Linked DNA regions of Homo sapiens. The protein of the gene in region 1 interacts with the protein of each later gene in a biochemical or structural test. Each region holds a gene or a part of one and is shown on either strand. Other genes may lie near its edges.

Evidence for each region.
Region 2: the proteins of RNF20 (region 1) and HSF1 form a complex in vitro, tested with the Homo sapiens proteins (one study listed by BioGRID).

What each region holds. Positions count from the first base shown.
Region 1 is NC_000009.12:101,539,542-101,544,797, reverse strand, and holds part of RNF20 (E3 ubiquitin-protein ligase BRE1A), read right to left. Parts: intron 4,596-5,256; coding exon 4,428-4,595; intron 4,309-4,427; coding exon 4,161-4,308; intron 4,006-4,160; coding exon 3,823-4,005; intron 32-3,822; coding exon 1-31. UniProt on the Homo sapiens protein: Component of the RNF20/40 E3 ubiquitin-protein ligase complex that mediates monoubiquitination of 'Lys-120' of histone H2B (H2BK120ub1).
Region 2 is NC_000008.11:144,297,253-144,302,508, reverse strand, and holds part of HSF1 (heat shock factor protein 1), read right to left. Parts: intron 1-5,256. UniProt on the Homo sapiens protein: Functions as a stress-inducible and DNA-binding transcription factor that plays a central role in the transcriptional activation of the heat shock response (HSR), leading to the expression of a large class of molecular chaperones, heat shock proteins (HSPs), that protect cells from cellular insult damage.

The sequences.
Region 1 (5,256 bases):
TCCTGCACTGCTTCCTCCACTATCAGATTATCTGGGGAAGAAGAACTATACTTTAATTTAGCATCTAGAGTGTCATTTTTTTTTTTTTTTTAAGACGGAGTCTTGCTCTATCGCCCAGGCTGGAGTACAGTGGCGCGATCTCGGCTCACTGCAACCTCTGCCTCCAGGGTTCGAGCCGATTCTCCTGCCTCAGCCTCCAGAGTAGCTGGGATTACAGGCACATGCCACCACACCCGGATGATTTTTGTATTTTTAGTAGAGATGGGGTTTCACCATGTCGGACAGGCTGGTCTCAAACTCCTGACCTCAGGTGATCCACCCACCTCAGCCTCCCAAAGTGCTGGGATTACAGGTGTGAGCCACCGTGCCTGGCCTATAGTGTCAAATTTTAAAACTGTGTATCCTTGGCCAGGTATAGCAGCTCACGCTGTAATCCTAGCACCTTGGGAAGCCAAGGCAGGCCGATCACTTGAGGCCAGGAGTTCAAGACCAGCCTGAATAACAAAGCAAGAATCATATGCTCTTATCACATATTCTCATATCATATATTCTGAAATACTATGTTAGGGGCACTTCTGAAGCTTAAAAACCAAAATGTACACTACTATTTACAAAGCAGGTAGGTAAATCCATAGAACTTATTACACCAAGTTCGTATGTTTAAAATTAGAGTTGCAAATACTATAGCTGAAATCCAAATGTAATTAAATGAAACCAGATACTCTCAGGATATATACCACCCATCAAAGAGAGTTATCAGGAAGAAAAATATGCTTTCTCATATCACCTCTTGGCATTACTCTTAGTATCAATACAGAACAGGTTGGTCATATGGTGGTTTTCATGGTTTTCAAGCTAGGCTTGCCCATCAGAATCACTTGTGGAACTTTTAAAATAGACATTTCCCTAGGACCTATCTCATACCTACTTAATAAGAACCTCCATGGGCAAAGCCAAAAATAAGAATATGCTCAGAAAACTCCCAAGGTTATTCTGATTCATAACCTGAGTTAAGAAGTAGAGACTGAATTTTAGTCCTCTCAATATCCTAAGCACTGAGGACAGGGCTAGAATACAATAAAATTCAATAAATGTTTAGTGAATTTATAAACAAGCCCATAAATGCAATTCTTTTGAATCAAAGACCAAACAAACAGACAGTACTGCCCTGGCAGGTTAGACAGTGCCGCCCTGGCAGGGTTAGACAGTGCCGCTCTGGCAGGTTAGACAGTGCCGCCCTGGCAGGTTAGACAGTTCCGCTCTGGCAGGGTTGGACAGTACTGCAGTGGCAGGGTTAGACAGTGCCACCCTGGCAGGGTTAGACAGTGCTGCCTTGGCAGGTTAGACAGTGCCGCCCTGGCAGAGTTAGACAGTGCCGCTCTGGCAGGTTAGACAGTGCCGCTCTGGCAGGTTAGACAGTGCCGCCCTGGCAGGGTTAGACAGTGCCGCCCTGGAAGGGTTAGACAGTGCCGCCCTGGAAGGGTTAGACAGTGCCGCCCTGGCACGGTTAGACAGTACTGCCGTGGCAGGTTAGACAGTGCCGCTCTGGCAGGGTTAGATGAATTTATAGACCTTACTCTATAAGGCCTATACTTGCTCTAGAAGGCCTTACCTTACTCTAGAAGGCCTATCATATCATAGGGGATTTTGTAAAACACAACACAACTCCAAACCTCCAAATAATGAATTACCCTAAATATAAAAGACTGTATAGTGTTATTGAGGAATGGCGTGGTAGAAATTCCACAGGGAATGGGGAAGTAGAAACTACTGTATTGATGATGTCCTAGGAATTTGAGGAATGTCAATTTTCAGTCTAAGTCAGGGGGATGAACTTTCAAACAAGTTACAACTGATGCTATAATTCATACTTTATACATCTTTATCTCTTAGAAAGTTCAGCTTACCAATGGCAATTGCCTTTTGTGTTACAAATAATGGCATGGCTATTTGTAATGTTTCTACTTTTTAACTTAAACCCGACCTTAAAATGCATGCCATTAAATAGTAATTTTAAAGTCGTTTGATATACTACTCATTTTATTCCCTTTTTAAATAAAACAATTGTTTCACTTGATATTCATTTATGAAATCAAGTTTAACATAGTCTATGCACATGGCATATTAATTACCATATTACTAAAATTTAACAATACCTTCTAACTATTCAATTAGAGCCCAAGGAGAAAGAAGCATATGTGCACACACAAAGCACCATTATTTTATATTAGGTGACAGGGAGGTTCACATCCATTCATTCCCCATTGACTAAACATCTGCTAGATGCCAGATGCAGTGCTAGAAACTAGAGAAACAAAGAAGAGTGAGCCAAACTACTGAACCAAGACACAGTTTAGCTGGGGACATGCAAGTAGATGTAAGATATTAATACAAAAGTACAAAAGTCTGAGAGGACATAAAACACATTGTTTAGAATGGTTATCTTTTGAGAAATGAGAATGGGGAAACTTTTGTAGTCTACTTATTTGTATTTCTGACTTGTATATTTTTAAACAAGTATCTGTTTTCCTTATAATAAAATACAGAAATGCATAATCTAATGGAAAAGCAAAAGAAACCCGTGACCAAATTTTCACAGGCCTTCTACAAGCTGCTTAATTCTGTTGACAACTTAGCCCAATTACCCTTAAAAGCAAAATTACAGAATAATACAATTCTTATATGCTCATCCAATGGTTCAACCTCCATTACATTCAACTTATTTCCTTCAGAAATGAAAGGTTAAACATCTTAATGATAAGCAGGGAAATTAAGATATTACAACTAGACCATGATTATTATTGAAAACATGAAATCAAGGCATTTTTTTTGCATTTGAGCAAGGTATTTATGCCACAAATGACTAAAGATGTAACCTAGCTACACAAATACTTTACTGTACAAATTTAAATTTTTGCATTAACTCTGAGTAACACAATTATCCCAAATAATTATTTTATTTCAAATACTCTTTCATCCATAGAATATTTTCTAATAATCCTTTTAACCATACAGATCATCTGTCAACTCTAAAACCTGCACCAACTCTTTTTAAAAACATTAGCGATAATGAAAAATAAGTTAAGTAAAAATTAACTTTTTCAAGTCAAAATTCTGTAACTAATAATTAAATAATATAGTTGTTATTTAAAATAAAGTATTATCACTATAAATCAATAGCCTACATACACGATAAACAGATCCAGATATTAGAGCTGTTTATTAAATAATAAAGTTAATTCTGCTATTTACAAAACTGTCATTAATAGAGTATATCAGTATAGAGCTGATAAACTCTTTCCTCAGCTTATTAAAGGACTGTCATGTGGCTCAAAATGAGAAGCACTGATAAAAGATTAATATGCCATAATGAAGACATTACCAGTAACACTGAAGGTTAGAATTTCTAAAAATTTAATTAAAATATATAGTCCAGGCACAGTGGCTCATGCCTGTAATCCTAACACTTTGGGAGGCCAGAAGAGAGGATCTCTTGAGGCCAAGTTTGAGACCAGCCTGGGCAACATAGCAAGACTTCCTCTCTACAAAAAGGTTAAAATATTAGCCAGGTGTGGTAGTACGTGCCTATAGTCCTAGCTATTCGGAAGCTGAGGCAGAAAGATTGCTTGAGTTCGAGGATTCAATGGGCTATGATGGTGCCACTGTGTTCCAGCCTGGGTGACACAGTGAAACCTTATCTCTTAAAAAGTAAATAATAAATAAATAAAAATAAATATGTAAGCTTGCAAACTACAAATTAGCATGCAAAAATGAATTCTTATTCCTCCTCCACTACTCCCGGCCTCCAGGGTCTTGCCTCACCTCCACTGTTTAGCTTCCGGGATAAGAGCTCCACTTTTTCTTGCAATTTATCATAAACAGTCACAATCTGGGACACGGCTCGGCGGGAAGACTCCACACGTTCCTGCAGCTGAGACTCCATCTCTTCACTGGAACTGCTGGCCAAAGTAGCAAGGAAAGAGAAAGCTGGCTCTTGCCCTTCCCCTGAGGACACAGGGGGAAAAAAAGAAGCCCCCCAAAATTATAAACTGGAAATAACAAAATCCATTTTTTTTCCCTCAAATGGAAAGCCTCAAAGCAGAGCTCTACTTTAAAAACCCAGATAGCATGCAGTGATAGAATCCATCACGAACACTTGCCTCTCTCTCGGTCATCTTTACGCTCCTGATTGCTATCAGAGTCTGGTTCTGGTTCAGGCACAACAAGGGCTTTTCGTTCTGTGAGTAGGTCTCCCAAGCCCTGCTCCAGATCATAACGTTTAAGGATGATACGGATGTTTTCATCAAACTGGAGAAGGGTAGGTACAATTATGAAGAAACAAAGGACACAACTTTGGAAATGAAGAGAACAGTAAGGAGAACTAAATTGGTCAAATAAAAATCTGAACAAATAAACAAGTTAGCTACCTGACTCCAGTATCGGTTGACAATCAATAGTGAGGCATCATCAGTGGCCTGTCGTCGTTCCAGTTTTTCAATGTGCTCACGAAGTTCATCTTCAATGGCCTGCCGCTGATCCAACATTTCTGCCAGCTTGCGATTTTTGGTTTGCAGTGTTCTAATGTCTAGTTCCTCCTGCCCAGTAAACCAATCGTATTAGTCTCCACAAAGAAATAAGAAAAATGAGCCGTTAAACTCAACAAGGTCACAATTATTCATTAGTTATTTTCTATGAATAAAGCTATTGACTTTTAAAAAATCTTACAAGTAATTAAGAAGTAGAAGCAGAAGAGATAAACAACAGGTATATGATGGTGTGAGGAAAGAATAATACACACAAATACACCAGAACCTCAACCCATCTCGCTGTTCTAGTCACATAAACATCTACAAAGTAATGCTGCTTTAAGGCCACCATCCAGCTAGATCACCCTCGACTCCAATCAACACTGTCTTCTATCTCGTAAGCACCATCCTTCCTTCATTAAAGACTTCAGCACCTGGGTCCCTGTCTATCCCAGTTCCTGCCAATATATCTGGTGACTTCACCATACATGTGGACAAACCATCTAATCCTCTAGCATCTAGGCTGTCAGTTTTTCCAGTTCCTTCACTCCAAACATTATCTCCTCCACTGTGCTTCAGCCATGCACTTCAAAAGACACATCTCAGACTTTTGTCATTATCTGGAACTGTACCACATCTGAAATCTTATATTCCAACTTCCCATTCCCTGAAAAACACCACGTCTTTCCAGGTATCTCATGCCCTTAACCCAATATACCAATCCCTTTAC
Region 2 (5,256 bases), on another chromosome or scaffold:
TTTAGATGGAGTCTCGCTCCACTGCCCAGGCTAGAGTGCAATGGCGCGATCTCAGCTCACTGCAACCTCTGCCTCCCGGGTTCATGCGATTCTCCCACCTCAGCCTCCTGAGTAGCTGGGACTACAGGCACCTGCCATCACGCCCAGCTAATTTTTGTATTTTCAGTAGAGACGGGGTTTCACCATATTGGCCAGGCTGCTTTTGAATTCCTGACCTTGTGATCCGCCTGCCTCGGTCTCCCAAAGTGCTGGGATTACAGGCGTGAGCCACGGCGCCCGGCCTGCCTTTAATTTTTTTTAAATGGTTGTCTTCCTGAGTTGCAAAAAAAAATTTTTTTTTTTGGAGACGGAGTCTCGCTGTGTCGCCCAGGCTGGAGTGCAATGGTGCAGTTTCGGCTCACTGCAGCCTCTGCCTCCTGGGTTCCAGAGATTCTCCCGCCTCAGCCTCCCGAGTAGCGGGGATTACAGGCACCTGCCACCACGCCCAGCTAGTTTTTGTATTTTTAGTAGAGACAAGGTTTCACCATGTTGGCCAAGCTATGTTGCCCCATCTGGGAGCAATCCTTCCACCCGAGCCTCTGAGTAGCTGGCACCACAGGCACCACCACCGTGCACGGCTCTTCTGGATGCTTTTTATTTTTTTTGAGACGGAGTCTCGCTTTGTCGCCCAGGCTGGAGTGCAGTGGTGCGATCTCGGCTCACTGCAAGCTCTGCCTCCCGGGTTCACGCCATTCTCCTGCCTCAGCCTCCCGAGTAGCTAGGACTACAGGCACCCGCCACCACGCCCGGCTAATTTTTGTATTTTCAATAGAGACGGGGTTTCACTGTATTAGCCAGGATGGTCTCGACCTCCTGACCTGGTGATCCGCCCGCCTTGGCCTCCCAAAGTGCTGGGATTACAGGCGTGAGCCACCGCGCCCGGCCTCTTCTGGAGCTTTTAAGATTTTCTCTTCACCAGCCTGTTCCAGCACTTTGATTATATAATGTACCTTGATATGGTTTTGGTTTTATCCTGCTTAAGACTGATATTCTTGGATTTGTGAGCTTACAGCTTTTCAAAAATTTGGGAAAAATTTTGGCCATAATTTTTTTTTTGAGACAGGGCTCTGTTGCCCAGGCTGGAGTGCAGTGGTACGATCATGGCTCACTGCAGCCTCCACCTCCTGCACTCAGGTGATCCTCCCGCCTCAGCCTCCCGAGTAGTTGGGACCACAGGCAGGCACTACCACGCCCGGCTAATTTTTGTATTATTTATAGAGACAGGGTCTTGCTATGTTGCCCAGGCTGGTCTTGAACTCCTGGGCTCAAGCGATCCACCCATGTCAGCCTCCCAGAGTGCTGGGATTTCGGGCAGGAGCCACCGTGTCCAGCCTTTTGGTCATATTTCTGTATTCTCTTCCCCACTGTTTTCTGGAACCTCAAATACGTTAGACCACATGATATTATGTCCTTGAAGCTCGGCTAAGTTTTTGCAGTCCTTTTTCTCCCTGTACATCACTGTGGACAGTTTCCATTGCTTTTAGTTCAGGAATCTTTTCTTCTGAAGTTTCTAATGTTTTGTTAAACCGCTCCGGTGACTCTGAAGAACCACCTTTTTACTTTAGAATACATGCCCTACACCAGTGTCCCCCATCATTAACATCCTGCCTTTGTGTGGTACAGTTGTCTCAAGAACATTAGACACATTGTTAACTAGGACCCACATTCTAATCAGATTCCTTAGCTTTTTACCCAATCCTTCCTCTGCTCCAGGACATCATCCAAAATCCATCCAGTTGTCACATCTTCTTCAGTCCCACTGACTCTGGCACCTTTCAGACTTGCCTAGTTTTTGAGAACCTTGACAATTTTGAGGACTCGTCAAACAGTTTGTGGAATGTCTCTCAATTTGGATTTGTTTGATGTTTTTTCATCATTAGCTGGGGTTACGTATGTTTTTGGGAGGAAGATCAAAGAGGTAGAGTGCTGTTCTCATCATCCTATCAAGAGTACACAACAGGCCGGGCGCGGTGGCTGACGCGCCCAACACTTTGGGAGGCCAAGGTGGGCGGATCACGAGGTCAGGAGATTGAGACCATCCTGGCTAACACGGTGAAACCCCATCTCTACTAAAAATACAACAAAATTAGCCGGGCGAGGTGGCGGGTGCCTGTAGTCCCAGCTTCGTGGGAGGCTGAGGCAGGAGAATTGCTTGGACCTGGGAGGTGGAGGTTGCAGTGAGCCGAGATTGTGCCACTGCACTCCAGCCTGGCAACAGAGCGAGACTCCGTCTCAAAAAAAAAAAAAAAAAAAAAAAGAGTACACAACAGTGATACGCATGTCACTGCTGATGGTGAGCATGGTCCCTGGTGAGGCTGTGTTGCTGGAGGTCTCCACTGGAAAGCTGCTCCTCCTGCTTCTGTGCTCTGCTCTTTGGAAGAGGGTCACTAGGTAAAGCCCAGGCTTCTGGAGTGAGGAGTTAAGCATCACCTCCTCGAAGGGGAACTATCTCAGTAAACAATGTGGAATTCTTCTACTTGGGAGATTAGTTCCAGTGACATTTTGTCCAACTTGCTTCTTTTCTGTATCTTCCATTTCTCAGTCATGTTTTCTTATTTTTTGAGACGGGGTCTCGCTCTGTCACCCAGGCTGGAGTGCAGTGGCACGATCTTGGCTCACTGCAAGCTCCACCTCCCGGGTCCAAGCAATTCTCCTGCCTCAGCCTCTGGAGGAGCTGGGACTACAGGTGCCCGCCACCACGCCCGGCTAATTTTTTGTATTTTTAGTAGAGACGGGGTTTCACCATGTTAGCCAGGATGGTCTTGATCTCCTGACCTCGTGATCCACCCGCCTCGGCCTCCCAGAGTGCTGGGATTACAGGTGTGAGCCACCACGCCCAGCCCTCAGTCACATTTTTGTGTTATTTCTTTGAGCACAGGGAACATTTTTATAATTGTTTACTGTCTTTGTTGGCTAATCCTATCAAAACTGGGCCTGCTACTGGACCCCCTCCAGTGACAAGTCCATTTTTCTGCTTTGGCTTGTCTGCCCATGACTGATTAGATTCTGGACGTGAATTTTTTTTTTTTTTTTTAGAAGGAGTCTTGCTCTGTTGCCCAGGCTGAAGTGCAGTGATGCGATCTCGGCTCACTGCAACCTCTGCCTCCCGGGCTCATGTGGTTCTCTTGCCTCAGCCTCCCAAGTAGCTGGGACCACAGGCGCCCATCACCACACATGGCTAATTTTTTGTAGTAGAGACGGCGTTTCACCATATTGGCCAGGCTGGTCTTGAACTCCTGACCTCAGATAATCCGCCTGCTTCGGCCTCCCAAAGTGCTGGGATTACAGGTGTGAGCCACTTCGCCTGGCTTCCTTCTCTCAAGAGTGCTGTGTGTACTCCGTGCTAGCAGGCAGTGGTGTTTCCAGGGCTTGCCTTGCACTTGTTTCCACGGCATTGGAGTGGCCTTTCCTCTGCAGCTTATTCTGCGCCACTTCCAAGCTGTGTTTCCTCTAAGGTGTCATGAAAGCTCCTTGTATTTAAAGTGGCTTCTATACTCTGGCTGGTGGGAACTGAAATAACCACGGCCCTGTGTGAGTCCTGCTCATCTGTCCCCTTACACTTACTCTTCCCCTTCAAGTTGCTCTTGGTCCAGCTCCACGAGGTTTCACTGTGTGCACCAGCAAATCGGATCCAACCCAAGATGCAAGCGGGCTCACGCGCAGATTGCTGGAGCTCTTTGTTTTGGGCGTAACTCCTTCCTTTCTGGTACCACACCCCACACATTCTAGCTGCCTCAGCTGCCCCAAAGTCTGGGTTTGTTGGGTTCTCTGCACGTGAGTCTGCAAATTCCCTCCACATAAAAAGCCTGGACAATTTTGTGGTTTACCTCAGTCCTCGCCGGTTTTTTCTTTTCTTTCTTTTTTTTTTTTTGAGACAGTTTCTCGCTCTGTGGCTGGAGCGCAGCGGCGCAATCTCGGCTCACTGCAACCTCTGTATCCCAGGTTCAAGTGATTCTCCTGCCTCAGCCTCCCGAGTAGCTGGGATTACAGGCACGCACCACCACGCCTGGCTATTTTTTTTTTTTTTGTATTTTTAGTAGAGACGGGGTTTCACCATGTTGGTCAGGCTGGTCTTGAACTGCTGACCTCAGGTGATCCAACCGCCTCAGCCTCCCGAAGTGCTGGGATTACAGCCGTGAGCCACCGTGCCCGGCCCTAGTTTTGTAACGTCTGAACATTTTCAGCGGCTTCTTATGCCTTAAGGGTTAAATCCAAGTTGAACATGTCAGGCAACCCCTACCTTAGGGGCCATTATGAATTTCACAGGGTCTGCTGGTGAACCCATCAGAGAACCCAGTGTCTCTCTCATCTTCCTGCCTCAGTGGAACAAGGTCCCTCCTCTGCTGACCACAGGCACCTCTTGGAGGAGTCACCGGTCATAACTGGATATCACGAAAACCTGCCACTGGAAATGGGAGGCCCCTGGCTGGTGCGAGATGCCACACGCTGAGAAGTGTAGGTGTCAGCAAACCCCGCAGCTTGCAGTAAACTTGGAGCCTGTGGCCTCATTTTCTGCAGCACTGTGAAGGACCTGAAATGTGTGTGAGATCCTGCCTGTAGGGACACCTTACATAGAAAGTGTCTGTGTCTCTGAGTATCTTCTCAAAGGGCTCCCTGGCCCAAAACGTGAACAGTGCCGTATTCTACAAGGTGGCCCCACAGCCCAGGCCACAAGCCTCTTGTTCCAGCCTCCTGCCAAGTCAAAGCTGTATCTGCTGACCGGTGATCTGGGCTCCTGGGCTCGGCTGGCCGGCTGTTCCCTCTCCGGGTCCCGGGAGTATAGGCTTTAGGAGCAAAGGGAGCGCGTGTGTGAGTAGCTGTGGCCCACGTGTGGGGAGCAGGGACCACCGGAGTCAGGGCATGGAAGCAGTGAGGCAGGCAGGAAGCGCGAGCAGGTGCAGACAAAGTGGCTCACTTTGTGGCCCCGTTCCCTGGTCTGGTTCTGTCCACATCTGAGCCACCCGCACCTTTCTCATAAACACTCTTCTTGTTTCCGCTCTGGAGGAGCTTCCAGCGTGTTCTCGCCACACAAGGACCAAGAGCAGCACAATCGCCCTCATCTCTCATCACATCTCGTCACTGGCTGCCGTGCACAAGTGTGGTGGCTACTGCTGCTCACCATGGCCCACAGGGTCACAGGGAGGAGGCTGAGGCAGCAGCAGCCCTTGCTGCCAGGTGCCTTGAGACATTTGGGACCACCTCCTTTCCTTAGACAGC